4 linked regions of the Homo sapiens genome follow. The protein of the gene in region 1 binds, or shares a complex with, the protein of each later gene. Each region holds a gene or a part of one and is shown in the gene's direction. Other genes may lie near its edges.

Region 1 (7,651 bases):
AGTGACACAGGCGTCCCAGAGCCAGTGGAGTGGGATGAAGGGCCAGCGAAAGGAGGGAGACAGGGCTCAAGGGGAAGGAGGCTGGGCTAGGCAGAGCCTCTGAGGAGAGCTGATCCTGCAAAGTTACTGGCACCTCCCCTGGGCCAGCCCTGTGTTCCTGGCCAGGGACGGGAGGAGACAGTGCCCTGTCTGGCAGAGGAAACAGATTCATGTGCATGACTATCAGTGTGCCATGGCCACAGAAAGCACCGGAGGCTGTGGGCATGAGGAAGGGCAGTTGGGGGCATAGAACCTGGGGTGAGGATGGCCAGGGCAGGTGCTGATGGGGGACTGCAGCAGGAAGGACCGAGAGGAGACCAGGGACAGGCAGGTGCTTGAGAAGGAAGGTGGGCCCTGTGGATCAGGCAGGGTATCTGCCCCAGGGGGCTCTGCACACCAGCAGTCCTACACGTACAGGGTGGGGATGAAAAGAGACTAAGGGTCAGGGAGCTTGGTAGCTGGGCCTGCATGAGGGACAGAGAGGCAGTGTCCCTCTGATGGCACAGCATCAGGAATTAGGCTGGGGTATGTCAGGTACACGTTGGGCTGGTTGAGCGTAAGCCTCAGGTTCCTTCCGAAGCTCTGCCCGCCAGCCCTGGCCTGATGTCAGGTTTTGTTTGTTTTTTTAACAGCTTTATTGTGATATAATTCATAAACCATACAATTCACACATTTAGAGTATATAGTGCAGCGGTTTTTGATATATGCAGAGAGCTGTGTAACTATCACCACTGTCAATTTTAGGACTTTTTCATCACCCCACTGCAGGCAGTCCCGTTCCTCCCCGCTGTCTCTCAGCCCTAGGTGTCCACTCATCCACTTTCTATCTGTAGATTTGCCTATTCCGGGTACTTCATAGAAATGGAACCATCTAATATGTGGTCTTTTATGACTGGCTTGTTAGCATAATGTTTTCAAGGATTATCCATGTTGTAGCATCTTTTATCAGGACTTCATTCTTTTTTATGATTGAATATTATCTCATTGCATGGATATACCACATTTTATTCATTCATCAGCAGATTGACTTTTGGGTTGTTTCCATTTTTCAGCTATTGTGAGTACTGCTGCTGAGAACATTTGTGTATGAGTTTTTGTGTGAACATCTGTTTTCAATTTTCTTGGATATATACCCAGGAGTAGAATTGCTGGGTCACGTGACAACTCAGTGGTTAGCATTTTGAAGAATTTCTAGACTGTTTTCCAAAGTGGCTGCACCATTTTGCATTCCCACCAGAAGCGTGCGATTCCCGTTTCTCTGGATCCTGCTGGCATTTGCTGTTCTCTTTTTGATCGTAGCCGTCTGAGGAGGTGTGAAGTAATTGTGGTTTTGATTTGCATTTTTCTAATGACTGATGATATTGAGCATCTTTGCATGTATTTCTGGCTGTTTGTGTATCTTCTTTGGAGAAAGTGCTTTGCTAGTTTCTTAATTGGGTTTTATTTTATTGTTGAGTTGTAATTGTTCTTTATATATTCTACATAGAAGTCCCTCATCAGATAGATACATGATTTGAAGATATTTTCTCTCATTTGGAGGATTGCCTTTTCACTTTCTTGATAGTGTTCTTTGAAGCACAAAAGTTTTCATTTTGATGTAGTCCAATTTATCTTTTTTTTTTTTTTTTTTTTTTTTTTTTTTTTTGAGACAGTCTCGCTGTGTCACCAGGCTGGAGTGTAGTGCTGTGATCTTGGCTCACTGCATCCTCCGCCTCCTGAGTTCAAGTGATTCTCCTACCTCAGCCTCCCAAGTAGCTGGGACTACAGGCACCTGCCACCACACCCAGCTAATTTTTTGTTTTTAGTAGAGACGGGGTTTCACCATGTTGGCCAGGATGGTCTCCATCTCTTGACCTCATAATCCGCCCGCCTCGGCCTCCCAAAGTGCTGGGATTACAGGTGTGAGCCACTGCACCAGGCCTGTAATTTATATATTGTTTTAGTTTGTTGCTAGTGCTTTTGGTTTCATATCTAAGAATCCATTGTCAATCCAGAGTCATGTTGCCCCAGCACCATGTTGAAAACTGCTCTTCCTCCATTGAGTGGACTTGGCACCCTTCTAAAAATCATTTGAGGCTCCTGGCGGCCTCGGAGGTGTGAATTGCAAACATAAGGGTGACACCAAGTTTTGGCATCTCCCCTTCCTGGTCGAGTGGCTGTGGACAGGTCATTTTCCCTTGAAGTCTGTATTTTGTCATTTGTAACTTGGGGATAATACTTGTGTGTTGCATCACATGAGGTCATGAAAGTGAGATCACATTGAAAGTAAACCTCAAGATACTCGACCGGCATCAGTCCTGGCTCCCTCTGTCCCTCAGACGTGAGCATCCCCTGCCTGGGTATCTTTGTCCCCACCTGGACACTTTGGGTGGTAGGAAGGTCTGGGGTCCCTGGCGGCTTCGAAGCCCGTGAACCAGAATTCCCTGGAAGGAATGGGGAGCAGGGTGGCTCCCAGGGTCCCCAGCACTCTTTGGAACTCAGGACAGCATCTCCATGCCCACATGCCCCCAAAACCCAAGGCAGGCTAGTGCTGGCTCTAGGCCCGTTCTTACATGGTTGGTGCGAGCATTTCTTACTTTAGAACAAACCCACTGGAGTGGAATATTCCCAGCATCAAGGGGAGGTAAACAAAGGACCCTCTGGGACCCACTCGCCAGCTCTTGTTTAAGAGGAAAACATGTTTTGCTCCCCTCGTTGTGGGCTTGGTACCTTTCACGTCTGCCCTCCAAGGAAGGCTGCTGGGAGCCCTCACGGTGAGGAATGATGTTTGGGGTCTGAGGCTAGGGTGGTCCCTAGACTGCTAAACCACCCGGTGCTGGCCAGGGACCAGCTGTCAGGAGCTGCTGAGGATGGGTCAGCCCCAGAGGGTGGGGGTGCCGACATTGCCTCTGGCCCTGCCTCTGCGTCACCAGTACGAGCTTGAGCTTCTGCGACTCATGAGCATGGACCTGGTGGGCTGAGCTTCAGCTGTGAGGGGTCAGGCCTGCTGCAGGGAGAGCCAGCTGCAGCCAGTGCCCTGCGCTGTGCCCACAGTCCCTGAGACCCCAGGCTGAGGAGAGCAGCACTGAGCCCAACCTGGAACGGGCTCACGGCTACTGGAGCTGGGTGTGTGCTCACTGGTGTGGATGTGCAGAGCCGGGACTCGCTCTGCAAGCAGGCTGGTCCCACAACCTTGAGCCACCCACTACAGGGAGGCTGTGAGAAGGTCCCTGGCCCCTAGGAAGCTCCCTCAGTGGAGATGTTTTGGCTGCTTTAATAACAGTCATCCTTCCAAAGCCCTTCACAGCAATAAATGTTTCCATATTCCAGATGAGGTTTGCAGGGACCTGTCCTCTCTATCAGTGTCCACCTGGCGCCTCCCCCGAGTCCGGCCTGCCCTTGCTTCTCCCAGAGCTCATGGTGTTTTTCAGGGCCGCAGGCTGGCAGGGTGTCCTTCTCCCAGGGGACTGAGCCTAGGGAGAGCCAAGTGGAGGTGCCCAAGTGGAGGAGAAAGGAAAGGACCACAGAGAGGGGAGGGGAAGTGGGAGAGTCATGGTTAGGACCTCAGGCTGAGGCCTTCTGCCAAGCCAGGGGTCTGGTGTCACTCAACTGGGAAACACTGTCAGCACCCAAAGCTGCTCTCAGAGGTGGGGGTGACGGGACCACTGCATGTGGGAGGCACACGGGCCCTGTGGCATCCACAGCTGTGGTCTCCTTAGTGTCCTGTCACAGACTTGCAAATCAAAGCCCAGAGAGGCGGCAGCCAGCCACCCTCCCACCTCCCCAGCACTCCTGTGCCCACCCCATGCCTGTTTAGCCTCTGCCCTTGCTGCCCCCTTCCTCTGCTGTGTCCTTTTGGCAAGAGGAAGGTACCTCGGGGCAGATTTGGGTGGTCCTTGTGAGACCCAGGGCAGAGTGTGGTCCGGGGATACGGCTTCTGTCCAGCTCCCTGCCAGACAGCTGTCTGATCCTAAGCACAGACCAGCCTCTCGGGGGTTTTGTTCGGCCAGGAGGTGGGCTGAGGGGCAAGTGTGTGGAACATGCAGGAACAGGCTGTGCAGTGGCCCTCAGTAGTGGGGGGCTGGGGACTTCTGGGAGACTCCTTTGCTCCCATTCGCCATCCATCCCCTTTCCCTGATCAGTGGGCCCTGGCTCTGGACACTGAGTGGAGCAGACAGTCCTCCTGCCCCTATAGGTTCCACCTCCTGACTGGCACTGTGGCATCAGCATGGTCCAGCCCGTGCTGTCCTGTCAAGGACCACCTCCACAGCCAGTGGCCCCTTCCTCCATCTCAGAGACAGAGAGACGCTGGGCACAAAAGCCCTGTTGAAAGTTCACTTTGAAGGGAAGCCCATGGGGTCATGGCGACAACACTTGTTATGGAAAGGCCCTGGCGCCTCCAGCAGCTCCCTTGAGGTTCAGGTGACTGGAGCATCCACTGGGTGCCAGCAGTGCTGCTGGGAGGAGCAGGGCACAGACAGGGGCCAAAGCTTTCTGAGGATTCTCCATCTATAGCTGGAAAAGTCATTCCTCTCACTGCCTCCCCTCCTCGTAGCGAGAACCCTCTGCCCACAGTGGAGATTGCCATCCGGAACACGGGCGATGCGGACCAGTGGTGCCCACTGCTGGAGACTCTGACAGACGCTGAGATGGAGAAGAAGATCCGCGACCAGGACAGGAACACGAGGTACCCCTGGCCCTGTGGTCCTGGGCTCTGCCCACAGGCACCTGGCTTTCCAGGCAGAGGCAGGGCCATTGCCTTTCCCAGTCTCCCATGGTCTCTGAGACAGAGTACCTCTAGTGCTGCTAGAGGCAGGCAGGCTTCTGGGTGATAAGGCCCCATCCAAACGCCAGGGTATGTTTCCCTGCATGGAACAAACATAATTCCTCAGGCTGAGGGTCTGACCACAGCCCAGATCCAGGTTTTGGGGTCCCTGGAGTGATGAGCAGGGCCTGAGTGGCAGACAGGCGAGGCTGAGAGAAGGCTGGGTCTGACCCTGCTGGGGGCCCACATCCTGCCTCTGTTCCCACCCCTACACTTGGCTGCCCTGTAGAGCCTTGGGAAGGGCAGCGCCCAGGCTGGGAGCTGGCCCCGACTCATTGCCCTCCCCACTCCTCTTCCAGGCGGATGAGGCGTCTTGCCAACACGGCCCCGGCCTGGTAACCAGCCCATCAGCACACGGCTCCCACGGAGCATCTCAGAAGATTGGGCCGCCTCTCCTCCATCTTCTGGCAAGGACAGAGGCGAGGGGACAGCCCAGCGCCATCCTGAGGATCGGGTGGGGGTGGAGTGGGGGCTTCCAGGTGGCCCTTCCCGGCACACATTCCATTTGTTGAGCCCCAGTCCTGCCCCCCACCCCACCCTCCCTACCCCTCCCCAGTCTCTGGGGTCAGGAAGAAACCTTATTTTAGGTTGTGTTTTGTTTTTGTATAGGAGCCCCAGGCAGGGCTAGTAACAGTTTTTAAATAAAAGGCAACAGGTCATGTTCAATTTCTTCAACAGGTCATGTTCAATTTCTTCAAAGTTTTAACATAAAAATAATGAGAGCCAGGAGTGGGGCCGGGGCCTGGGGGGACGAAGGTGGTATGTGAACAAGGTTGGCACACAGGCCTCACCCTCCTCTGCCTCAGATTCCCAAGTGGGCAGGTGGGGGTGAATGGGGCTCCGGGTAGCACCTCAGCTCCTCTCAGCTCCCCTCAGCCTGTTCTCCTTCCAGACCCAGAGAGCTGAGAAGAGTAGCTGTGAGGCTCAGGGCAAGAGGCTCTCTGCCTTTCAGGAACAGCCCTAACCCTGCTCCCCTTGCTTGGCCTCAGGAAGGTGCCGCGAGCTCTCCTGCCGTCCCTGGGCCGCCCTGGCTCTGCTGTGTCCAGATGGTCAGGCTACTGCCAGCTGGGGCCTTGCTGCTCTGAAGTCCCCTGCGGAGGGCCCAGTCCTGTGTGGGCACTGCTGGGCTGTCGCCAGCCTGGGTGCAGGAGGGCTGTTCTAGCTCCAGTGGCACCCATAGCCAGGTCAGCTGGGGCCCTTTCCCACCCCAGCAGGTGCTGTGGCCTGGGCCAGCTCCTGCCTTACAAGCCAGCTGTGAGGAATATGGGAATAGCCCTCCCGGCCTGGTGCCAGCTCTTGGAGTTGACACGGTACAGGGAGGAGACACAGCCCAGGGTCCCTTCCCAGCCCTGCCTCCAAGGAGTTCATGTCCCCTCTGTTCTCATCTGTAATAGGGAGGTGTCCCCATTCTTCAGAATGGACACAGGATCTGGGAGGGCAGCAAACTGGCTCGCAGCTCCAGCCTTACTGAAGAGAATGGGCACAGATCCGGGCACAGATCCCAGCACAGACTGCTGCCACCCTCAGCTGTTGGCAGGTCCCATGCTGCCAGGGCAGGGCTAGGGTCAGAGGCTGCTGTGCTCCCTGGAAGTGGGGTAGGGCCCCATGTGGGGCAGAGGCAGAGCTCTGATTAGGGATTGGGGTTCTTGGTCGCTGAGATGTGAGAGGAGGGCTCCTTTGAGCACATGTTAGCATGGGACTCTTCCCAGGGAGTTTGCACTCAGGGCCTCTGCCCTCCATCAAAGAGTGGAACTCCCCAGAGCCCCATGCACAGCAAGGGGACAGCTGGGCCTTACTGGAAGGCCTTGAACAAAGGGGAAGATTCCCAGCCCAGCTGCTCTTAGACATGAACAGGTTTCATTGCTGAGGTGTTTGTTCTGTCCATGAGGTAGGAACCTCGGCAATGAAAGGGTGAGGCAGCCCTGTGTCTCCACAACTGGGGGGATGGAAGGAACCTTGGCTGCCTCACCCCACAGGTCGGGCAGGGCCACCTGGCTGGGAGGTGCCGGGAAGGCTGGGCCCTCACTCCTGACCGCCAGCTCACACCGCCGCAAAGCCATCTCCACAAGGTCTGGCTACAACACGGAGGGCAGACTCAACAGAGAACAGTGTTGTTACCATGAAAATGACAACCTGTCTTTGGAGGAGGCCCCGTGCCACTGAGCATCCAGAAATAAACCACAACATGGACAGGCTTAGAACAACAAGGAAAGCTGCCAGGTCAGAAGAGAAAAATGAGCCACAGGGGTCGGATAAGGCTCACACACGTCCTCAGCTAAAAAGGGCAGGAACAGAACCTTCCAGAAGTCCCTGCCTCACCCAGTCTCAGAACTCTGCTAAGGTGAAAACTTAGGCTCTGAGGTCATAGAAAGGGCAGAAGACCTAGTCCTGGCCCTCTTCTGCACCTGAATCCATGGGGCTTTGGCATCACCAGATGAAAAATGAGGCATACGCCCACCTGTCAGGGTGGCTGATGAGAGACAGGAGAGGCTAGATTGGCATCAGCCTGAAGGCACCACTGGCAGGAACATCTGTAGGCTGGTTTGGCACAACCTAGGAGACGCCTGTCCTGGCCCCAGCAGCCGAAATCTGGTGAACTTCCCCGCTGACTGGCAGGTAGCAGAGGCCTATGGTGGGCAGGACTTGCCCAAGGCCCTGGTGGGGCCAGGATGAGAACCCTGAGCCTGTCACCTGTGAGCTCAAAAGCTCTGCCTGGCAACCTGTGAGCTCAAAGCTCTGCCAGGCAACCATGGGCAGTTTCTTTGCCCTCTGTGGGCACCCCTATCCTACCACCTGCAGTTGGGCTGA
Region 2 (7,879 bases), on another chromosome or scaffold:
TATTATAGGAGAAGGGTCTTTTTAAAAAGTGAAATAAGCCATTTGACGATTCAGTTTATTACTAGATTTTTGTAAGATGAGTATTCAGATGGAGCAGTCTCAAAAGGAATATTGAGGTCTACTCACGCACATAGGTTTTATGATGTCCACATTTCTACTGAATTCCATAAATGCAGTTTTAACTTTTAGTTTTATAAAACGTAGTACAATGTATTAAGAAAAGGGCCTTATTTACCATTAGAAGAAAAGTGATTAGCTAGCATGCGAAGCAGGAAGCTACAAACTGGTTCCTGATTACCTTAAAATGTGTGTGAGATACATTATTTGATAAAATCACTCCCAGTTAAATTTTAGGGTGTCTGATATTTTAAATCTTGTAAACAAATTTTTGTGGCCTAAATTTATATATTTGCCAAAGTATGGATGGCTGTGTATAGTTAGAAAAGGTGGACTTAGTAACTGTGGCTAATGGAAAGGGCCTATCATTTAAAAAACAGGAAAAGAAAATATAACAAATGTCTGCAGTTTTGTTTTCTGAATCATCTGGGATGAAATTATGCATGGCTTAAAATCGTTTTCATTGGGAGTCCTGATTTTTGTGGTACATACTTTTGACAATATTTTGGTAGTTTTTTTTTTTTAGTGGTAGCCACTCTTTAAGACAGCTATCACTTAGGTTTATGTTTATATTAATACTACATCAGTAAGTATATGCTAGGGACTAGCACATCCTTACCTTGAATCTATAATGAGGAACCTTAACCCCTCTTTGCTTTGGCTCTGCTTGTCTATATTTAGTCATGAATTTTTGGCAAGGCTTTTTATACTTGTTCCATTTTTCTCAATGTCATAGTGTATCAGAAGTGTGTTATGGATGTGGAAATAATGCAGATCACACTTGGACACTTTTACTAATATACTTAACCTCTGAATGTCATTTTCCTTTACTGAAATTGAAGAAAATAACGTCTTTATTCTGATATTTAAAAAAAAAAAACATTAATTCTGATTTGAGAACTGATTTTAAAAATGTAAGACAATGTAGAGGAAGACTTAATATAAGCTCATTTGATCGTTTTATTAGACACAGATACCTTTTAAAGAGAATAGGTGTAATAGAATGCGGTTGAGTTTTCAGTTCTATTTTTTATTAATAGACTTTATTTCTTTATGATTCTGGGCAGGGTGTATCTATCTAAAAAGATGACTTCTGATGTAATAGGAACACTTGCTTTCCTAGGATAAATTCCAATATCACAGGCAAACCGAAAAGATGATCATTTCATTTATTTAACCCTACCCTTTCCTAGGAGATGAGTGATTTGATGAACATTTGTTAGGGTTCCATGAAATTTTCTACTCCGTTTGGAGACTCACTGGGGATGTAAATTTTGGATGTGCTGGCCTAGGACTCTGTATTCGCTTTTTTGCCGGTGTCCTCAATCTGGAGGCTTTTCTTGCAGCTCTACACTGGACTGACACTGCTCAGCTCATGGGGTTGTGTGCTTTGATCCATGTGGGTGGAAAAGGGACTGATATTTCACTCGTGTCACTTTTGTTTTGGAGTGTATGTGTAGATTTGTAAATTTGAGATTGATATTTATGTTTGATAGAAGTGTGGTGTGTTGCATAAAATGACAGATTTATGGAGGCTGAAAATATTAATAAAACTTAATTCCATTTTTTTTTTGCAATATTTAGGTTTTCCAGTTGGATGTTATAAAATTTTTATGACATTTTACACTGCTGTTATTACTCAAGGGGCCGTATCCACCTCTTAGGCCTTTTTGGGATTGGGTGGTTTTGGTTGCATGCCTTTTCGGAGGTGCCCTTTCCTGAATGGGAGGGAGGTTTTTGCAGGTTCTCTGTGGATATGTAAAGTAGTGCCGCACGCTTGCTGTGTGTGCTTGCTTGAGGCTGAGGAATCCCAAACCCTGTTCCCTGTCGTGTCCGGGAGAGGCACCAGGCAAAACTGTTCCTCTACCAAGAATATATTTCTGTATCATAGATGTAGAACTATTATAAATATCTTTTCTCTAGCTTGGAGGCTATTTGAATGAGACTCAATGGCCCTTTTGGTTTAATTGGGTAATTGAGTGAATTAATTCTGATCTAAAAACTTGGTGTACTTTAGCAACTTTTTCTTCAGGAAATTTGGTAAAGATAAAATGACTTAGGTATCAGTCATTACCTGAGTGTCCTAAGTATTCATTTGTTTTTCCTTATACTGACATCTGAATGAATGGAATGATAGACATATACTATATAGTTTTAATTAGCAATTCACTTTGAGTGAGTGAATTTTTTCAGAGTAGAATATGTGTTTCCACTGTAAGTTTTCACTAAATATGTTCTATTTTCAAAATCTTTGACTTGGAGTAATTCTAAGAAAATTCTTTCCTTACATTTAGTTATTTGTTTTTCTTTTTGAGACAGGGTCTCACTTTGCCACCCAGGTTGGAGTGCAGTGGCGCGATCTTGGCTCACTGTGGCCTTGACCTCCCAGATTCAAGTGATTCTCCTGCCTCAGCCCCGCAAGCAGCTGGGACTACAGGTGCACGCCATCACACCTGGCTAATTTTTGTATTTTTCGTAGAGATGGGGTTTCGCCATGTTGCCCAGGCTGGTCTCGAACTCCTGACCTCAAGTGATCCACCCTCCTCGGCCTCCCAAAGTGCTGGGATTACAGATGTGAACCATCCTGCCAGGCAAGATTTACTTACTTAAATAGGATCCAGTAGGCAGTTTTCAAACCCACATCTGTATGGATCAATGCCAAGAATATTAGAAGGCTACTGAGTTTGACAGATGAACTAATGATGAAATTAACTTGTTTCTTGGATGAGATTTATTACCAGGCACCAGACTAAAGCCCTAAAATCTTAAGCCTATCTGGTTTATGAATAGCTACTCTTATTTCCATTATTAAAATCAGGTAGATGGCAGCAGAATCTGGAGGAGATTCACCCTCTGTTGACCATCTTCTGTAAGGTGCACTTCTCAGTGTCTTCCTGGGCCTTGATGAATGATGAGCTGGAGAACTAGACCAGAAGCCATTCCTTATCAGGTGACTCTGGAAGGGAAGCCATATTTGATGAAATCCAGAAGAAATCCTGGACCATAATGCTACATTTTTTCTTTTTTTGTAATGGGATGCTAAAAAATTAAATATATGGTTTTTTTTTTAAATAGAGGTAAGCTATACGTACATAACATACAACTTACCATTTGAACCATTTTTAGGCATACATTCCAGTGGCATTAAGTACATTGTCATTGTTGTGTGGCTGTCACCATCATCATCTATCCCCAGAACTTTTCCTTCTCAAACTGAAATAAAAATATTTTTCTCTTTCTTTTAAAATTGTTAGCTGCTAATGTGTATTGTAAGTAAAATAATCTTGTTTTTGTAACCATTAATCTTATCACTTCATAGTTTGTGAGTAAATTCTTCCGCAGACATTCCATCAGGATGCTAATGGTTTTTTTGTTTGTTTGTTTTTGTTTTTTATTAGTACATTACTTCCTCTCAATTCTAACTTTGGGGTAATCCTCATAGAGTTTGAGGATCTCTTTGGAGATGTGTATTACAAAGGTTAGTAGTTTCACTGCCAGTTATGTTATTAAAATTTTGAAAAGCAGCTTTTTGGAACCTTTCTAAAGTTTAAAGGTTGAGGGTATTTGTTGAGAGAAACCTGGGACTTGGTTAGATAATAGGGTGTGGAAATGAACTGTTACCATTCTCACTTTTCCCTTGCTTTTCTTCCCTCACCTTTTGCATTTGTAGTCTCTTAAAAATTATTAATTTTATTTTCCCACTATTAGTGAAAATCATTTATAGTGATATTTTTTTCTATTCTTTCTGTGTTTGAAGTTTCTGGGCATCTCACCCCTACCAACCCAGAGCAAACCCAGAGTCTAGGTGGTGCCATGTCCTTTTCCATAGTGTTCTCTGCCACCAAATTTGTGCCTCCCCCTCATGTTTTTACTTTTTAGTCCTCTGCAAAACTTCAGAAATTCTTTGTATGTGGAAAAATTACTAAATTAAGATGATTGACCTTTTAGAATTACATTTTAAAGGCAGCTGTGAAGGGAGACTTCTAGATCCTGCCTAGTCTCATGAACAGGCGTCTTTGGTTTGTGTAAGGTATTGGAATTGTACTGGAATTGCTGCTGATGCTGATAGGTAGTCACATCTTTGTAAGATCAGTTATGTACTTTAACACCAGCTTCCACAGAGAGGAAATGAACTGTTACTTAAGAGCTTGTACTGGGAAGCAATAGTTATTTCTTTAAGGTGTAAACATTTAGCATTTGTGTATGCAGTGAGGTATATGTTAGATAAATATCTACTCCAGACAGTCAATTGGCAAATATTTATTGAGCTCCCACTTTCTTAATCAGCCCTGTGCCAGAGACAGACAATAGCTGGGGTCTGGGGATTGCTGCTGTTGGTGTGCGGATCATGCAGAGATACTGCTAACGCTTGCTCCCTCCATACCTGGATCGTGGTATTGCTGACATCATTGACTTAGAACTGGCTCATTTAAACAAATTGCAGATAGCAACCATGTGGGTCAGCAGTCTATTTGGCCTGCTTTTTTTTTTTTTTTTTCCGGTGGGGCAGTATATTTTGGCAAAACAAAATCTGGTCAACAACAATTGTAGGTTGTTGTGATATAGTTGATGTGATCTAGTGACTCTTTTCCATTTCTACCAATCAGTTACTGGCTTTGTGCCAGAGCGAAATATAGATTCACTACCGAGAATAATAACTAAAAGAAGGAAAATATAATCACTTTCAAATTTATATAGAATGGTCCTTTTTCTTTTTCTCAGTTTTCTACATTACATAGATTCTTGGAAAAAAAGTTAAAACAGTCTGTTCAGATTTAGGAAGATACTTGGATTGCTGGGGTATTTTTGGTAACTGTTTAGATAATGTATGCTGGCTGAGGAGTAAATTCAGCTACTGCTTCTGGGTCCTGAAATAAACCTTTCAGAAAGCGAGGCATTGATGATTAGTGGAGGCAGTTCCAGAATTCTTAGTATCTACTGTTTCTTTTTGTGATGAGCATCTTAGAAGTTAAACCACTCACCATATTTCATAGCCTTATATTGAAATGATTGTTAATTCTAAAATTCATTTAGAAGCTGGCGTCTAATTTGTGAAATCTTGAGAACCACCTTTTAAGATTCAGTGACCATATATCAAGCTACACACCCATTTTAATGCCCTTTAAATTTTCTGTTACCACTGGTATATTTTATAATAAATTCACTCTAACTAATGAATTATAAATGACCTTGGAAATAGGAATGTGGAACATTGCTACTGCTGAGCAAGTATCTTTCTGAAGAAGCAGACATAATTCCGAGGGGACTGGCATGTTTGCTGTGTATTAGTTTATTTTGGTGATTCTGAGGATTTGTGAGCGAATAAGCTTCTATGATGAGGCATCCTGACACAATGGTAAGATCATGGGCTTGGAGCTGGTCAGACCTTAGCTCATTTGGAGGCCTCAGCACCCATTTTCTCTGCACTCCAGCAGGGGGTCAGTTTCCTTACCTGGAATGTTGGCTGCTGGGCAGGGTTGTTGAAAACCTTCACTGAGGTCATGGATGTCTATCTGTGGCATCTGTATGTGGCCCCTCTCTTCTCTGCCTACCTGCCTTCCCATGTGGGGCTTGTTTTCTCATTCTCTGCCTGGTCCTGCTGTACTTCGGGGTGTGGCTGACTCAGGACAAGCCCTTGCTGGCATCAATTAGGTGATGCTCAGCCCCTCCCAGCTCCAAAAATCTGTGCTGCTTTGAATTTTTAAACAAATAGTGCCTAATCAGCTATGCACCGCTGAACAGCTTATTAAACCACACTAGATCCCAGACATATTCTGTGAATATAAACTGAGACCTGTGCAAATACATAGATTTTTGCATTCCACTGTAGTTTCCCTTACAGAATGTGGTTTTGTACTGATTGGGACTCTTGCTCAGCAGTTGTATAAATTGGTTTTGGTTTACCCACAGAGCCTACGGCTGATGCCATTGGCCCCAAGCTGCTACCCCATTCAATATCCCATCCCTAATATTAATTAGTGGTCTCTTCTCTGGCCAACAATCATTCCTCTGTTATACTTCCTAAACCTTCCCACTTTGATGATCTGCAAAAAATGACTGGCTTTTTAGGAGAATTACTTTTTGCAAAGGAACGAAGTTGCAAAAATTTAAAAGTAGGCTTCTTGGAGATTTTGGGTGCTAGACTTTGGTCTCTCATTAGCTAAGTAACTTGCTTCTGTGTTTGCTTCATCTTCACTGAATATATGATTTAGACTTGATCCTTAGCAAAATTATAATTTACTATGCATGGAGGGTTAGGGCTGCTCTTAAATAGTCAAAACAGGAATGTCAAATCTAAGAGTACCGGGGTCCTCCCTCAAATATATAAAGAGCAATTTTTTTTAAATGCTGAGATTTATAAAACTATCAGGGACAAAATGTAATTCTATTATGAACAAATACTTACTGAGCACCACTTGGTGCTTAAGATACACAGAGTAAAGATGACATATGATCCTTAATTTTCCCAGGTGTATTATCATAGACTCCTGGTGTTTTACAAAGTGGAAATTAAAGTGAATGGCTACAGTTTTCTTCTGTAGTTCTTATGCAAAAAGACTATATTCCTCAAAGTGCACCATCTAAGAAGTATTTATGGAGTAAATGATGTATCCAAGCTGAAACTTTCCTAACGAATGTATTATTCATTTCCAATATCAGTTGCAAGGAAATCCGTTTGGTCAGTATTTGCTATTCTATGTGGAAGGTCAGTGTACTTGGAGATTGTTCTTTGGTGCTGTGACGTTGATGAGAAAGTGATCCTAATTTGGATTTTGTATTGGGTGTCATTCATATGGTGATTTTTCTGCTAAAGAAAAGCCTTCACATCAGTAACATGAAGGATTTAATACTCAGTTCATTTACTTCACTGTATTGAACTGTGTGCGTCAGGGCTTTGGAACTATAGATTCGTGTCATCACAGCAATAATGTGGGCAGAAGGCACATGTTTGTGAAGAGCTCACTGTGTGCCAGGCATCATGCTGGGTGATGGGATTCTTTGGTGACCTCCACAAATGGACAATGCAGGAATTAAGGACAAGTAAACATGCTACACAGTAAGGTGTAAAGGATTTTGTGAAAGAAGTTTTGATGTTAGAGGGTCACTTTATATAGATTAGGTTGGGGTGGAGTTGAGGCAGGAAGGCTCCTACAGCAAAGGAGGTCTGATGAGCTAAGACTTGGTTAATGAGAAACAAACAGTGAAGGTAAAGAGGCATGGGGCTTGGGGCAAGGGCTAGAGCCAAAAGCTGGCAGGTTAGAGAGCACTGGAAGATTATGCATTTACTAGCTGTGTGACCTCAGGCAAGTCACTTCGCTTCTCTGTGCTGTGTGGTTTCCTCATTTGTCAAAGAATGGGAAAGGATACTTAACTCATGGAATTTTCATGAGGACTAAACTTTATAAGAAACGTGTATGCTGCTTGGCAATGAAAAGGACCTTTTAATAGAGTAACAAAGGATTGTATTTTCTCATGAATAAGGAATTAAAATGAGTTAGAGGCAATTCTCTATTAGTTAATTTAACAAGTTACTTAGCAGCCTATCGGTCTTTCAGAGCAAATAGGTTTATATTTGAAGCTTAGTTCTAATCCATACCATGGCAGTTTTCAAATTTCCTGATATGTTTTTACCTTGTCCAGTGTTAGGAAAAGTAAGTTATTGAGCAATTCTAAAATGTTTACTGTAGTTTGCCTGTTTTTTAAGCAGTCATATTTTTAACTGGTGAGGAAATAAATTCAGAAGATTTATAATTGAAGAATT
Region 3 (7,879 bases), on another chromosome or scaffold:
TATTCCGTAAGTAATTGAGGTGACTGGCATTTTTTATTTGGGTTGGGGAAAATGACATTTTAGAAAGTTATATGTGACTTCCAACTGTATTTTTTTTTTCCAGCAAATGCAACAACAGAATACTCAGAAAGTTGAAGCCAGTAAAGTGCCTGAGTATATTAAGAAAGCTGCCAAAAAAGCAGCAGAATTTAATAGCAACTTAAACCGGGAACGCATGGAAGAAAGAAGAGCTTATTTTGACTTGCAGACACATGTAGGATAACTTAAATTTAGTACCCCCTGAACTTAGTTTATTACTTGTTATTGCAGAGTGCCCATCACCCCCTTTATCGTTATTTTTTGTACCACCTATGTGTGTGTGTTTTTTTTGTTTGTTTGTTTGTTTTGTTTTGTTTTTTGTGGCAGAGTCTGTGTAGCCCAGGATGGAGTGCAGTGGCATGATCTCGGCTCACTGCAACCTCCGCCTCCCGGGTTCAGGCGATGCTTCTGCCTCAGCCTCCCCATTAGCTGGGATTACAGGCGCCTGCCACCACACCCAGCTAATTTTTTGTATTTTTAGTAGAGATGGTGTTTTACCATGTTGGCCATGCTGACACCTGCGTGTTCTTTTTTTCCTCAGAAGTTGAGATGTTATTTTTAATGGTGTGCTTAATAATACTCAATTTACATTTTTTTGTGAGATGTCTTTTGCTTTACGGTTAATAATTCTAAATGAGACTAATAATAGCTACATATCATACTTGCTGTGCGTCCCAAGAGTTTTTAAGAGATTTGCATGTTAATTCTCATAGTAACCATGTGAGGTTGGAACTAGGATTACTTCCATTTCATAAAGAAATTGAGCTACAGAGAGGTCGTATAAGCTACCCAGATCACTCTGCTGTTAAGTAGTGAGCAAGAGATCCACTGCCATTCCTCAGGAGAATAGGCCTTTAAAACAATAATATATAGAACTGAAAGCACCAACTGTCCTCTTAGGTTATAGCTCCTGATATCTCCTAAAATTTTAGCTTTTCGAGGGGGAAGTGGGCGTGCAGTGGTGAGCACGTGGGGACTCTTCCTAAAGCCTTGATTCTTAGCATGGAATCAGTTTTGTGTTTCTCTTTATGTTAACGTAGGTTATCCAGGTACCTCAAGGGAAGTACAAAGTTTTGCCAACAGAGCGAACAAAGGTCAGTTCTTACCCAGTGGCTCTCATCCCCGGACAGTTCCAGGAATATTATAAGAGGTATTTAGTAGTTTTAGTTACAGTTGGTATCGGCTATTGGTAAGGGGTTTCAGAGCCTTTTGTACTTGCCTCCTAACAATTTTGGGGTCTATAGATATCACCGTAAGATATCGTATAGGATTTGTGTTGCTATTCTTCTCTGGTTCTGTGGTAAACAATACCCTGTAGTCAGAATTTGAATATATGCTGGTGAAGTCTAGATGCCTCTGTCTCTGCCCATTCTGTTTGGGTTTGTTAGAGACAGATGCTGGGGGTTCTGTAGCACCTCACTGCTCAGGGTATGTTCCGTGGTCCAAAGCACTGTTATTGCTCAGAAGCTTGTTGGAAATGCAGAATCTCAGGCCCAACTCTAGACCTATGACTCAGAGTCTGCATTTTAACAGATGTCTGTGTGATTCATGTGCAGGTTAGAGTTTGAGAAACACTGACTTTTACTGCAGAGAAGATGAGAGAAGGAGCGGAGAGGGGCAGGCATGGGCAACTGGGTGCCCCAGCCACATTGCTGACCTGGCCTGGCTGCTGCTCCAATATGGACCCTAAATGTTACTTATCTCCTATTCCCAAATTAAATGTAACTGAAAAAAACAGGGCTAACAGATTCTTTTTTTTTTTTTTGAGACAGTCTTGCTCTGTACCCAGGATGGAGTGTGGTAGTGTGATTTCGGCTCACTGCAACCTCTGCCTCCTGTGTTCAAGTGATTCTCCTGCCTCAGCCTCCCAAATAGCGGGACTGCAGGCACATGCCACCACGCCCAGCTAATTATTTGTATTTTTGGTAGAGGTGGGTTTTACCATGTTGGCCAGGATGCTCTTGATCTCTTGACCTAGTGATCCGCCCACCTTGGCCTCCCAAAGTACTCGGATTAAAGGTGTGAGCCACTGTGCCCAGCCCATTTTGTTTTAAAGTCTCAGCTTTTACTTCAACCTTAAGCCTTACTCTGGAACCGTATGTTTTTCATAATATACTATTTTTTAGAGAATAGAATTTAAAATATAGTATCATAACTCACACCATTTGAAAGTCAAATCTTGGGCAGAAATTTTTTAAATAAAAAAAGATTTTTTAAATTCAAATTTAAATCATGAGCAGCAATTTTTTAAAAGTTTTTCTTCAAATTTTTTTTTTTTTTTTTTGAGATGGAGTCTCACGCTGTCGCCCAGGCTGGAGTGCAGTGGCGCGATCTCGGCTCACTGCAACCTCTGCCTCCTGGTTCAAGTGATTCTCCTGCTTCAGCTTCCCGAGTAGCTGGGATTACAGGTGCCCGCCACCTTGCCCAGCTAATTTTCTGTATATTTAGTAGAGACGGGGTTTCACCATGTTGGCCAGGCTGGTCTCGAACTCCTGACCTCAGGTGATCTGCCCACCTTGGCCTCCCGAAATGCTGGGATTATAGGCGTGAGCCACTGCACCCGGCCTTTAATTTTTAAAAATTTTATTTTGGCATCAGCAAATTATTAAAAGTCATATGCAAGTATATTAACCCCTTTGCTTTTTGGTGTGTTGTCTTAGTTGGAGAAGTCTTCATCTAGGGTTGCCTCCTGAATGGGGGCTACTGAGGGTGAGAATGGAGGTGGCACGAAGCAGTGCTGTCTGACCTAGGGGAAGAGATTGCCAATATAGTTTCAGACAAAATAGATGATTAAATTTGTTAGAATACATGCTTCCCAAATTTGTTTACAATAATTGGTTACTAAAAATTTTGCTTTCTATGTTATTATTTTAAGTAATATCATGTACCATGCACTGGTGTGATATGTATGCATTAAATAAGTTAATGCATATATATCAACTGTATGCGGTAGATGCTATTATTAGGTCTGTTTTACAAATGGAGTGACAGCACAGAGAAGTAGCAAAGACCTGGGACAGTGGTCGAGGTGGATGTGAGCTGGCAGCCAGACTTGGGGCTGCTGACATTTTATTTACTTTTTTCTTTTTTTGGGTTGAGGGCAAAGAGGGGAGGCACATTATCTCTTAGTAAGAATCAAATGCATATTTTACATAAGTCTAGTGAAAAGATGTTCAGGCTTTTTATTAACCCTACTTGATGACAAAAATGAAAAATTAGTACTCTAGTTTTCAAAAGTCTTCGGGGTTACTCAAGAAGTTTAAGGCTATCTTCATAGGTCAAAGATGAGTCTGTTTATATTTAATAATAAAGGGAAACCAAAAATAAACTCTCTGAACTTCAGGTACTCACCAGATGAGCTGCGGTATCTGCCATTAAACACAGCCCTGTATGAGCCCCCTCTGGATCCTGAGCTCCCTGCTCTAGACAGTGATGGTGATTCAGATGATGGCGAAGATGGTCGAGGTGATGAGAAACGGAAAAATAAAGGCACTTCGGTGAGAACATTTCTCTCTAGTAGGAAGCATTTCCTTTCTCTTTGAATTTTTGTTACATTGAATTTCTGTCATCACCCTCTCCTTGAAAAAGGATGGTTGCATGTAATTTCCAGAAAGTATTCATCAATAAAAGTTACTTATAGTATGTTTTGATAAAAACAAGCAGTGAATGGCCTTTGGTAAGCTTTATGCTTAAAATCGCCCCTTTGTAGTTACCATGAGCAGTTTAGGCAAGGGTATGGAAAATTAGCTTACAATCATTTATTCAACTTGCTGTCTCTTTAGCTTAAAATATTGAACAAAACAGAATTTGATCTCTTGACACAGAAATGTAGTTTTCTTAGTTGAGGGGAGTGCATTTGCTTAATCTTATGCTTCCTATAGGAAAATATTATGTTTAGTAATATGTTGTACAATTTGTTGGGTTTTCCTGTATGACTTTTTTTTTTGTAGCAAAATGCACCTGCAAGACAGTGGGCAGTTGGTGTATTCTGTGCACCTGAAGGAGAATAAAATCCCAATGATGGTTTGGGGCTTTGATCCCAGTGATGACATAGGGCTTTGAATTTCTTTAGCATTGTGTTTTAAGTAACTGGCTATTTCAAACTTTTCATTGAAGCCAATGTAAATGTGAGATTGTGCTACCATTGAATGGACATTATTTCCTTGTCACCAACAGCTTCTAAAACATCTTTAATAATACATATTATGCAAAATAAGATACTGTTCAAGTATTAAAGTGGTGACACAACTTTTCTCCTGTCATGTTGCTAAAAGGGGAGCTATGGCATGCAAAGGGTGATGAAGCTGACTTCCTTTCATACTGCTAGGAAAAGTGTAAACTAATCCAACATTATGGGAAAGCATTTTGACAGTCTTACCAATTTAAGTTCCATAGTATTTGACCTAGCAAATCCACTAGTAGAATTTATCCTAAGGATTTAATCAGATGCTGAAAAATTTTAATTAGAAAAAAAGGTCCATTTGAGTGTTGACAGTATTTTTTATGCTGGAAGTTACAAATAAATTTTAATGCCCACAGTGGGTAATATTATATTACATTTATAGGATAGAAATGCAGTTCAAAGAATATTTAATGATTGTGAGAAAATGCACATAATGCTTTTAAAAAATACCAAAATACACATATGCATACACACACAGTGTAATCCAGTTTTGTATTTTAAAAAATGAGGGCACAATGAGGTAGGGGGTAATGTGTGAGTCTCGGTATCTTTATGTATATAAGTGGACACCCAGAAAAAAGATAAAGTAGATACATTCATGTTTCTAGTCAGTGTGTGTTTATCAGGGAGGCTCTAGATAACCTAATTTTTTAATTTATAATTTTTGTAATTTATATGAAAGTTCTAATTAGAACATTTTAAATTATAAAATGAAGAATTAAATGATCAGATACTGAGGTCTTAAACCTTGAATATATAAAATATTTCAGATCCTGTTGTAGATAGTTGAGGGATTGGCTCTGCATAGTTTAACATTGTGAAAACACAAATGTGTACTTGAAGGACTTTTTTTTTTTTTTCCTAACTGCAGCGCTTCATTTTTCCTGAAGGACCTTCTTAATGACTTTTAGTACTCAGTGAAAATACCCACACTTATTTGTAACAATATATTTTTGTATGAAACAAATATGTTCCCTTGTGACGGAAAATGATGTTGAAGCTGTGTGCCGTAATAGTAGCTGAAGCGGATAATTGTGTTTTTGTGACTTATGTCAGAAAACAAAGTTGATGAAGGCACTGATATGGAATCAGTTTTATATAATATACTTAGAAGAAGGAGGAATGATTTTTAACATAACTTACTTTAGTCTCCACTGGAAAAAGCTTTCTTACATTTAGAATGATCTTTTTATTTTTAAAATGATAAAGCTTTAAAACTTTCTTTGAATATTTTCCATAGTTTTCAAAATCCAGACTCAAATTTGTCTTAATTCCAAAGAATCTTTGTTTTTGCCTTTTAAACTCCAGGACAGCTCCTCTGGCAATGTATCTGAAGGGGAAAGCCCTCCTGACAGCCAGGAGGACTCTTTCCAGGGAAGACAGAAATCAAAAGACAAAGCTGCCACTCCAAGAAAAGATGGTCCCAAACGTTCTGTACTGTCCAAGTCAGTTCCTGGGTACAAGGTAGAAGAAAAAAGCCCCTGACTCAGCTTCTTTACTGACCAGCCTCTCCCTGAAATATTTTAACTTGACTTTCACGATTGTGGAGCTTCTGCCTGCTGTACCTCACTAGCTGTTCTTCTATGGTGTGCCCTTTGTCCGCTGCTTTCTTTTTTGCTTTATTTCCTTGGTGGCTTTTCTGTCACTTTTGGCTATGGTTTACCTTCTGTTTTCTGTATATGTACAATTTATAAGTCTTTTTTTTTCTTTGAAAGAATAACCAGGCAAGTATGGGTTTTTAAAACATTATTTCATAGGCAGAAGTTTATATTTTCTTTCCTTGGAGTAAAGATCATAATTATTTGGCATTTTAAATGCCCCAGCATTTAGTGTAGCTAAAGCTGCTGAGCTATAAAGTATGAGTGGATATACTGTTAGACTAAGTTGCATTTTTTTTAGTGCCTTTCATTAAGAAAGATCTGGGTTTAATCTAAGGATTATTTGATCCATATGCTAAATTTAGCTAACTCTGGGATAGAAAATAATAAAACCTGTTACTTACATTGTAGTGATTTTTAGCATAACCTTGGTAAAGAGCCTATATGATTCTATGGCAAGAATTAAAACATACTTGTTAACTTGTTGATCTGATTATCCTCAGAGTAAAGGAGTAGGTTGTCAGCAACTATTATTATATTTTGAACTTTTCCTCCCTCTGTCTGCCCCTCCCTTTTCTTCTGAAGAAAAGGTGAGGTGAGAGATGAGTAGCCTTATTTGCATATAGGGATTTAAGAATATCATAAAAGGAAGAATTAGCTGTACAGTTTCATATTTGGGATGGTGGTAGTAAAATAGACTACCTTTTGATTCTTTTGGTCTGAAATGTATTAGAACATGCTTTTATTGCACTTATGAAGGTGTATTGAAGGAAAATTTTAGAGTAAGCTGATGAGAAAGTTTTGCCAAGTGAAATTGTTAAACACCTTGTATGTCAGAACTGTGATTGTGGTAAATAATTCACAAGAACAGGCTGAAGTAAGTCACCTTTCCCTCAAACTAACTAGAACACGTTCTAACATGTTCATTTACCTTTCTTCAAGTAAAAAAAGCGACATTAAGTTAGTGTATTTCATATTTTATTAGGAAATGCTTTTATGTAATTAACTTAAAAATTCTTTTTTTTTTTTGTAGCCTATAGCAAGCAAATTTTAAGCTTAATTCAGCAAGGGTTGGCTTCCAAGGGTGGCTGCAATAGGCTGCAGCTATGTGATTTTTGTACTTGTTTTTACATATATAGCTTATGTAATTTCTTTATATAAATTAATGCTTAATAACTGAAAGCAAGTGAGCTCCAAAGATGAAATTTCAGAAGCAGTATACATGAATGAGTGTGTTCTACTGGTCTGCTAAGAGCTTTAAATGGAAGTGGCCGCTCAAAGCACAGTGTCCTGTTAACTCTTGAGTGCTAAGTAGATCTTTGCAACAGTAAGCTTGATTGATCATGGGTTAAAAAGAGAGAATATTGAAATAGATGTTTTAATACAGGCTGGAAATCAGCTATTCAACACTATCATTGATTTAGTATACAAGAAATCATATGGATTAACTGAACTTAATAGTACTCAAGTAGGATATGCAAAATTTATATTTTACATAATCTGTGAACATTTTTAGTACCTAAAAATGTTTCAGGTATTTCAAAGATGGGAACAACCAGTATCTAGTCATCATACATTAATGTGAACATGCTTATTAAAAGTTAACCTCTTTATAAAAAGTATTAATAAACCAAGATGTGCCTAAATATTAGGGTACTTCAAGCTAAAGGTCATAGTTTATATATAAAAAGTACGAGATTCAAGGAAGTAATGTATCTGATGCTTTGCTTAATAAGATTCACTAGTGCTTGCCCTTAATTCATAGAACAGTATTGTTTAGGTTACATTAACCTGAAATTTAAAGCATAATTATTAGGATTCCGGCCTATAAATACAATAATTAAAATCTATACTATATTATTGCTACCATGAAAGTCTTATCTTTGGCTGTTTTTCAAGTAGAAAAGTAAGTGTACTGTGAGCCTTTTATTTGAGATGCTGAGAGCTATTAGGATGAGTATTTCAGTTTTCTTGTCAATAGTGATACTCTGATGATGTTGCAGTTATTTGAAGTAGAACT
Region 4 (7,879 bases), on another chromosome or scaffold:
ACGGGGCTTCACCATGTTGGCCAAGGTGGTCTCGATCTCTTGACCTCGTGATCCGCCTGCCTCGGCCTCCCAAAGTGCTGGGATTACAGGTGTGAGCCACCACGCCTGGCCTGTTTTCTCACTTTCTTGGCCCCTCACTCCTGACTCTCCCCACAGGCATATGGCATCGGGGGTCTCCGGAAACGCCAGGACACCGCTTCCCTGGAGGACCGAGACAAGCCGTATGTCTGTGATAGTGAGTCCTTCTGAAGAGGGGGAAAGGCAGAGAGAGGGGTGCCCAGAGACTCCCCACCTCGTGGCCCTCTCCCTCCCGTTCCAGACCCGGGTTGGGAGGCTGCTCAGGTCTCTGGCTGAGGGGGGAGGTGTGATCCTGGAGGCCAGGGTGGAGGCGGCAGGGGCCCGGAGGGGCTGACAGGCCCTCCTGGCTCGCTCGCTCCCCAGTCTGTGGGAAACGGTATAAGAACCGGCCGGGGCTCAGCTACCACTACACCCACACCCACCTGGCCGAGGAGGAGGGGGAGGAGAACGCCGAACGCCACGCCCTGCCCTTCCACCGGAAAAACAACCATAAACGTGAGCTGGCAGGCCAGGTGGGGGTGGCCAGGGGCCCTGGGAGTGGGGAAGAGGAGCCCAGCTGGGGGTGGGGGTGGGGGGGCATTAGACATTTCTGGAAAATCTCCAGCTCAGCCGTTCCCTCCCCCCACCGACCATGGGGATGCTGGCTCCGGGGTTGCCATGGCAACCAACCATCGCTCCTTCGCTCCTGGCCGGGCGTAATATTTCTGGGTCTGATTTATTGTTTCAATTAGAGCTTGGGGAGGGGGGGTGATAGATGGCTCCCCTCCCGCCCTGCCTTCCCTTTCTCCTTTCTCTGCTAAGCTTTGGTCAAGGGGCAGGGTCTGTGGCCTGGGAGCCCTTGGCTTCCGCCCTTGCCAATCCCATGCCAGTTCTGACAGCTGAAGGATGGGGGAGGGGAGGAGGGTTTGGGAGAGGCAGTAGGGAGACACTGTCTTCCCACCTATCTCTCAGAGGCAGAGGCTGAGTGTCTTCACCCCTGGCCACTACACACCCACGCACCTCAGTGTTCGGAGTTTTTCTTCCGAGTGTCTGTTTCCATACCAGATCTTGGCTGGGGTACTCGCTGAATTTGTTAGATACAAATTACTGAGGGTGCAGTTGGGAGTGGCTGGCTGGGAGACATGTATGTGAGAAGGGAGGCAGGGAGCCCTTCCTCAAGCTGTCTACCAAGTTTTGACCCAATAAAGAGGACATGTCAGTTGTCTCAAGGAGTTGGGAATCCTGGCTGGGTGCAGTGGCTCACGCTTATAATCCCGCCACTTTGTGGCAGTGGCCGAGGTGGGAGGATCACTGGAGGCCAGGAGTTGGAGACCAGCCTGGGCAACATACCAAGACCCTGCCTTTATTTTTAATTGAAAAAAAAATTTAAAAAGGCAGAGTTGGGAGTCCCGATGAGAACTGTTTTCACCTCTCCCCACAGCTTGGGGTAGCTACTCACTCTTCCCAGCTCCCCACGCCTGGACTAAGAGGTCCATCCTTGGGGCTGAGGCTGGGGGCAGGGTGGAGCCTTGCCTGTGGTGAGAGTCCCTCTCTCTGTCCCCCCTACCCCAGAGTTTTACAAAGAATTGGCCTGGGTCCCTGAGGCACAAAGGAAACACACAGGTACGGATGCCTCCTTCTGCTCCTAAAGTCTGCAGCCACCTTTGCGGGGTGCCCTTGCCTGCCCCGTGCCAATGCCTGTCTGCTGTCTTGCAGCCAAGAAGGCGCCCGACGGCACTGTCATCCCCAACGGCTACTGTGACTTCTGCCTGGGGGGCTCCAAGAAGACGGGGTGTCCCGAGGACCTCATCTCCTGTGCGGACTGTGGGCGATCAGGTGATGCTCCCCACCTGAGGTTTCTGGGGGCCGGGTGCAGAGGACATTCAGGAGTGCAGACCTGGAGGGAGGGAGGCAAGGCGGTGAGGACCGAGGGGACCCGGAGCATGTAGGGGATACTGTGGATAACCAGAGCTAGCGAGGCTGATGCAACTGCTGAGGATTGTGGGAATTGGGTCGGATCAGTGAGGCTTTAGGGATAATGGGATGTGGCTCTCATGGCACTGTGGGTAGCTGCCTGTGCTTAGCATGGCATCAAGAGTAGTGAGAGGCCAGGTGTGGTGGCTCACGCCTGTAATCCCAGCACTTTGGGAGGCAGAGGTGGGAGGATCACTTGAGGCCAGGAATTTGAGACCAGCCTGAGCAACATAGCAAGACCCCCATCTCTACAAAAAATTTAAAAATTATCCAGGTGTGTTGTTGTGCACCTGTAATCCCAGCAACTCAGGAGGCTGAGGCCGGAGGCTCCCTTGAGCCCAGGAGTTTGAGACCAGCCTGGGCAACATAGTGAGATCCCATCTATATATAAAAAAAGTTAGCTGGGCATGGTGTTGCACCCCATTAGCCCCAGCTACTCGGGAGGCTGAAGTGGGAGGCTCGCTTGAGCCCAGAAGGTTTTTGTTTTGTTTTGTTTTGTTTTGTTTTTTGAGACAGAGTCTCCCTCTGTCACCCAGGCTGGAGTGCATTGGCATGATCTTGGCTCACTGCAACCTCCGCCTCCTGGGTTCAAGTGATTCTTGTGCTTCAGCCTCCCGAGTAGCTAGGATTACAGGCACCCGCCACCATGCCTGGCTAATTTTTAATATTTTTAGTAGAGACGGGGGTTTCACCATGTTGGCCAGGCTGGTCTCAAACTCCTGACCTCAGGTGATCTGCCTGCCTTGACCTCCCAAAGTGCTGGGATTACAGGCGTGAGCCACCGCAGCACCCAGCCCCTTGAATCTGGGAGTTTTTGACTAGCCAGGGCAACATAATGAGAGCCCATCTATTAAAAAAAAAATAGGCCAGGCTGGGTGATGTGGCTCACATCTGTAATCCCAGCACTTTGGGAGGCTGGGGCGAGCAGATCATGAGGTCAAGAGATCAAGACCATCCTGGCCAACATGGTGAAACCCCATCTCTATAAAAATACAAAATTTAGCTGGGTGTGGTGGTGCGTGCCTGTAGTTCCAGCTACTCCGGAGGCTGAGGCAGGAGAATCGCTTGAACCCGGGGCTCAGAGGTTGCCATGAGCCAAGATTGCACCACTGCACTCCACCCTGGGTATCAGAGCAAGACTCCGTCTCAAAAAAAAAAAAAAAAAAAAAAGGCTGGGCATAGTTTCGCACCCCATTAGTCCCAGCTACTCGGGAGGCTGAGGTGGGAGGATCGCTGGAGCCTGGGAGGTCAAGGCTGCAGAGTGCACTGTGATGGTGCCACTATGCTGCAGCCTGGGCAACAGAGTGAGACCTTGTTTCAAAAACCAAAACAAGACAAAAGGAGTAGCAAGAGACAGGGGCCAAGGCATGGCAGGTAGTGGGCTGTGTGGTGTGAGTGACGGACACCACCACCTGGGCACCGGTAGCAGGATGAGCTCGCCATAGAGTTGTGGTTAACAGAATGTGGTTTCCCATGGTGGGCTTGTGGGCAATATAGACTCTGGTTGCCTCAGCACAGTAGGTCATGAATTGTGGTTGTCGTGGCATCATGGGTAGTGAAATATGGTTGTCATGGCAACTCAGTATAATGGAATGTAGTTGTGATGGCACCGGGGCCGTGGTTGCAGGGGGCGGGCGCCATGGGTCGTGGCTGCAGGTAGCGGCTGCGGGTGTCTCTGCAGCGGGGCTGTGGAATGACTAAGCCTGGCGCTGCACAGTGCTGTGATGTGAGTAACAGTTTTGTTGCTGGGGCACCAAGTGGAATGGACTTCAGTTGCATGAAACCGAAGTGTGGGGACCCCGTTGTGGAAGGTGGTTGCCATGGCATTGTGGCTGGGAGAGTGTGGTTGCCACGTTGCTGTGGTTAACAGGACCCCTGGCCGTTCTGCTGTGGGTAATGGAAAGTGGCTGTCTCAGCACGGTGGTTAACAGAATGTGGTTGCCACGGTGTTGTGGGTGGTAGAAAGTGGTTGGCACAGCACTGTGGGTAATGGAATGCGGTTGCCATGGCGTTCTGGGGAGCAGAGTGTGGTTGCCATGGTGGTTGTGGTAGGAGACTGTGGTGGCCGGGGGACTGCTGCCGGCCACGTGGTTGCTGGGCAGGTGTGGGGTCAGGCTGTGGATCCCGGCAGCTCATCCTGGCGTCATGAGCCAGGGGTAGGGGCTGAGCTATGGCTCCCCTGCCGGTCAGTGCCCACCAGGGGCACGGTGACCTCCTAACTGCACCCCTGCCCCTTGGCCCCCAGGACACCCCTCGTGTTTACAATTCACGGTGAACATGACGGCAGCCGTGCGGACCTACCGCTGGCAGTGCATCGAGTGCAAATCCTGCAGCCTGTGCGGAACCTCCGAGAACGACGTGAGTGCCGCCCGCCCCCCGCGTGCCCTGCTGCCCGCCCCGCCTGGCACGTCCACCTCTGCCCCTTAAGCCTAAAGCCTGTGCCTGAGCCTTCCCTGGTGAACACCAGTCCCCTGTGTTATCATTATGCCGGTGTCCATAAATCGAACCTGGCCCTTTTTCCTCTTCATCTCTCTGGATCCTCCCAACCACCCTCTGAAGCAGGTGGTCTTGTTTCCACTTCACAGGGAAGAAACTGAGCTCAGAGAGGGAAAGAGACCTGCCCAGGGTCAGCCAGCTAGGGAAATGGCAGAGCTGAGATTTAAAGCCATGACCACTGCTGGCAGAGCTGGTATCAGATCATCTTAGGGTTGTTTAAAGCCTTCCACAGGCGGAGCGCGGTGGCTCACGCCTGGAATCCCAGCACTCTGGGAGGCTGAGGTGGGTGGACCACCTGAGATCAGGAGTTTGAGACCAGCCTGGCCAACGTGGTGAAACCCCATCTCTACAAAAATACAGAAATTAGCTGGGTGCCTGTAATCCCAGCTACTCGGGAGGCTGAGGCAGGAGAATGGCTTGAGCCCAGGAGGTGGAGATTGCAGTGAGCCGAGATGGCGCCACTGCACACTCCAGCCTGGGTGACAGAGCGAGATTCCGTCTCAAAAAAAAAAAAAACAAACAAAAACAAAAGCCATGACCGTTTCTGGCAGAGCTGCTATCAGATCATCTTGGTGTCATTTAAACTTCCCACAGACCGGGAGCGGTGGCCCACCTGTGTAATCCCAGCACTTTGGGAGGCTGAGGAATTTTGAGCCCAGGAGTTCTAGACCAGACCAGCCTGGGCAACATAGTGAGACTCCCGTCTCAAAAAAAAAAAAAAAAAAAAAAAAGTCGTGCATGGTGGCGCACACCTGTAGTCCCAGCTCAGGAGACTGAGGCAGGAGAATCACTTGAGCCCCAAGGAGTGTGAGGCTGCAGTGAGCTGTGACTGCACCACCGCACTTCCAGCCTGGGCAACAGGGTAGGACCCTGTCTCTAAAAATATAAAATAATAATAATAATAAGCCTTCCACAGAGCCTTATAAAACCCCCACTATAAATCGCAAAGGGACTGTCCTGAGGGATATGTGTTTGGCTAAGCAGTGTTGCGCACACATTTCCTGCTGCAAAGACCTTCTCAGAACCTTTCTCGGAAGGCCTCACCTCCCCCAGCCCCCTTGACCTAGCCCCTGCCCCAGCCCCCCACCCCCGTTTCTGGTGCCCGTGCCCCCAGGGTGCCAGCTGGGCGGGTCTCACCCCCCAGGACCAGCTGCTGTTTTGTGATGACTGCGATCGGGGTTACCACATGTACTGCCTGAGTCCCCCCATGGCGGAGCCCCCGGAAGGTGAGAGGAGAGGTGGGCATCCCATGGGGCGGGTGGGTGGGAACGCCATCTCCTGGTTGTGGAAGACTGTGTGTCCTCGGGGTGGGAAGGGGCTGGGGCAGCCCTCCCGGACCCGGGCCTGACTTCAGCTTCGGCTGCCCCCGCAGGGAGCTGGAGCTGTCACCTCTGTCTCCGGCACCTGAAGGAAAAGGCTTCTGCTTACATCACCCTCACCTAGGCCGGCTCGGCTCGCCGCGACTCTGGGGTGGTGCTCGCCTACCTGCCTCTCCGAGCTCCTCAATTCTCCCCCACCCTGAACATCCCGCAGGGGGAGGGGGAGAGGGGGAAGCCGAGAGGGGGCTGGGCCACCCCCTCCCCTCTGTGCAAGTGGAATGTCTGCCCTGTGGGTGGGTGGGCCCGGCCAGGGCCTCTCCCTCCCTCCCTCCCTCTCTGTCCCTTGGCAAATGGACACCAGGGGCTTCTCCCCTCAAAGCCATACCCCGCCTCTGGGCGGGCATGGGGGGTGGTGGGTGCCAGCCAGGGGCATGGACAGAGCCTTTTTCTAAAGAAAAAGACAAAAAGTTAAAAAAAAAAAAAAGAAGAAAAGAAAAGAAGTTAATATATACAAAGAGTCCTCCAAGGCCTGGCTGGGTGGAGGGGCGCTGCTGAGAGTGTCCACCGGGCACCCGCCTCTGCCGGCCCCCCGCCGGGCGCCCCAACCCCAATTTCTGGAGCTGCAGCCGTCCCGCGCCCCACCCAAGGTGGGCGCCTTCCCCTCTTGTGCCCAGGGCGGTGGGCGTGGTGTCCACCCGCCCCTCCTGGTGCCCACGGTGGATACTGCATGATGTGAACCTTGGTTTTGAACTCTGTTCCTGCCCCTCCCCGACCGCCCCAGCCTGTGCCCGCCCCGTGCCTGCCGTGGCTGGTGGGTGGCGGTGGTGGGGCCGGGTGGGCCCCCGCCCAGCGCCTGCTGGAATGAGAAGCACAGACTCCGCCACGGACTCCTTTTCTCTCCCTCCTCCCGCCCCGCCAGGCCTGGCGGCCCCCGCCCCCCTCGCTGGCCATTTTGGGGGAGTGAGGGGGCGTGGTTGTTTCTTGTGGTTGTGTGTGTTTGTTGTTCGGGTTTTAAAAAAGGGAAACTGAGACTGCAGGTGGGGGAGGTGGTGGGTTTTGGGGGGATGTCCCCTAATCCAGGAGTGCCCCCTCACTTGTCACCGAGTCTCCTCTATTGCCTGCCTCTGCTGTGAATTAACTTGTTCTGTGTATTAAACTGGGCCTGACCCCTCTGCCCACGACTGCCTCGTTCTCCCGTCTGGTTTGGGGCATCACCAAGAAGGAGGACCGGGGGTCGACGGGCCTTGTTGGGGGTGAGGCGACCAGCCAGCCCCTACCTCCATCCACCTCCTTCTTCCCCTGCCTGCACCCTGCCTCTCCCCGGCTTTGTCCCAGCTCCGCCCTGCTTTGCCAGAAAGGAGGAGAAGGGGGATGGGGTGGAGGGGCTCCCGCCCAGCCAGCTGTGGTTGCCCTGGCAACGGGCTGCTGCAGCTGCAGCGGGCGCAGCCGGGAGGGAGGCGGGAGCCGGGCCGGGGGAAGGGAAGGGCTGGGAAGAGGACGGTGGGTTGGCCCCTCCTGAGGCTGGGGTGGGGAACGGGGGTGTCAGGAGGTGTCATCCCAGACCCAGACATCTCCAGGGGGCTCCGTGTCCTGGATGTGGGGCAAATCAGCGGTGGCGATAAGGTGGAAAGAGAGGCGCTAAGGGAGGGCAGGAGGGTATCTAGACACGGGCACTGGGAGAGAGACTGAGATGTGGGCGACGGGTGGGGGGCGGGAGTGAGGAGTGAGGGAACTAGGACACAGATCAGGAGAGAGAAAGAGACGAGGACAGTCACACAGTTATTGAGAGAATCAGAAAAAAGAGCAAGAGGGTGCAGAAGGGAGAGAGACAGGAGGAAGGACCAGGAGAGAGGAAGGGAGCAGGGGTGAGAAGGAGGTTTAACGGCAGAGAGGGAATAACTAATAAAAAATAGCTGACATGCTGGGAGAGACGGGAGGAGGAGAAGGAGGACGGTGATTGGGGAAGAGCAGCAGCAGATTTAGGGAGAGGTCCTCCAAGAGGGGAGGCAGAGAAGGAGGTAACATCTATCAGG

The links.
Region 2: SMARCB1 (region 1) and ARID1B share a complex: the UniProt entries of both Homo sapiens proteins name them as parts of the neuron-specific chromatin remodeling complex.
Region 3: SMARCB1 (region 1) and PHF10 share a complex: the UniProt entries of both Homo sapiens proteins name them as parts of the neural progenitors-specific chromatin remodeling complex.
Region 4: SMARCB1 (region 1) and DPF1 share a complex: the UniProt entries of both Homo sapiens proteins name them as parts of the neuron-specific chromatin remodeling complex.

Annotation. Positions count from the first base shown.
Region 1 is NC_000022.11:23,828,999-23,836,649, forward strand, and holds part of SMARCB1 (SWI/SNF-related matrix-associated actin-dependent regulator of chromatin subfamily B member 1), read left to right. Parts: intron 1-4,573; coding exon 4,574-4,705; intron 4,706-5,142; coding exon 5,143-5,182; 3' UTR 5,183-5,828; coding exon of another isoform or gene 5,829-5,981; 3' UTR 5,982-7,651. Other genes in the region: DERL3 (derlin-3), read right to left, coding at 5,829-5,981.
Region 2 is NC_000006.12:156,782,349-156,790,227, forward strand, and holds part of ARID1B (AT-rich interactive domain-containing protein 1B), read left to right. Parts: intron 1-7,879. UniProt on the Homo sapiens protein: Involved in transcriptional activation and repression of select genes by chromatin remodeling (alteration of DNA-nucleosome topology).
Region 3 is NC_000006.12:169,708,082-169,715,960, reverse strand, and holds part of PHF10 (PHD finger protein 10), read left to right. Parts: coding exon 1-6; intron 7-103; coding exon 104-253; intron 254-1,118; coding exon 1,119-1,228; intron 1,229-3,421; coding exon 3,422-3,575; intron 3,576-5,569; coding exon 5,570-5,725; intron 5,726-7,879. UniProt on the Homo sapiens protein: Involved in transcription activity regulation by chromatin remodeling. Belongs to the neural progenitors-specific chromatin remodeling complex (npBAF complex) and is required for the proliferation of neural progenitors.
Region 4 is NC_000019.10:38,210,154-38,218,032, reverse strand, and holds the end of DPF1 (zinc finger protein neuro-d4), read left to right. Parts: intron 1-156; coding exon 157-235; intron 236-441; coding exon 442-573; intron 574-1,629; coding exon 1,630-1,680; intron 1,681-1,773; coding exon 1,774-1,893; intron 1,894-4,276; coding exon 4,277-4,389; intron 4,390-5,641; coding exon of another isoform or gene 5,642-5,671; coding exon 5,672-5,753; intron 5,754-5,899; coding exon 5,900-5,970; 3' UTR 5,971-7,027; downstream 7,028-7,879. UniProt on the Homo sapiens protein: May have an important role in developing neurons by participating in regulation of cell survival, possibly as a neurospecific transcription factor. Belongs to the neuron-specific chromatin remodeling complex (nBAF complex).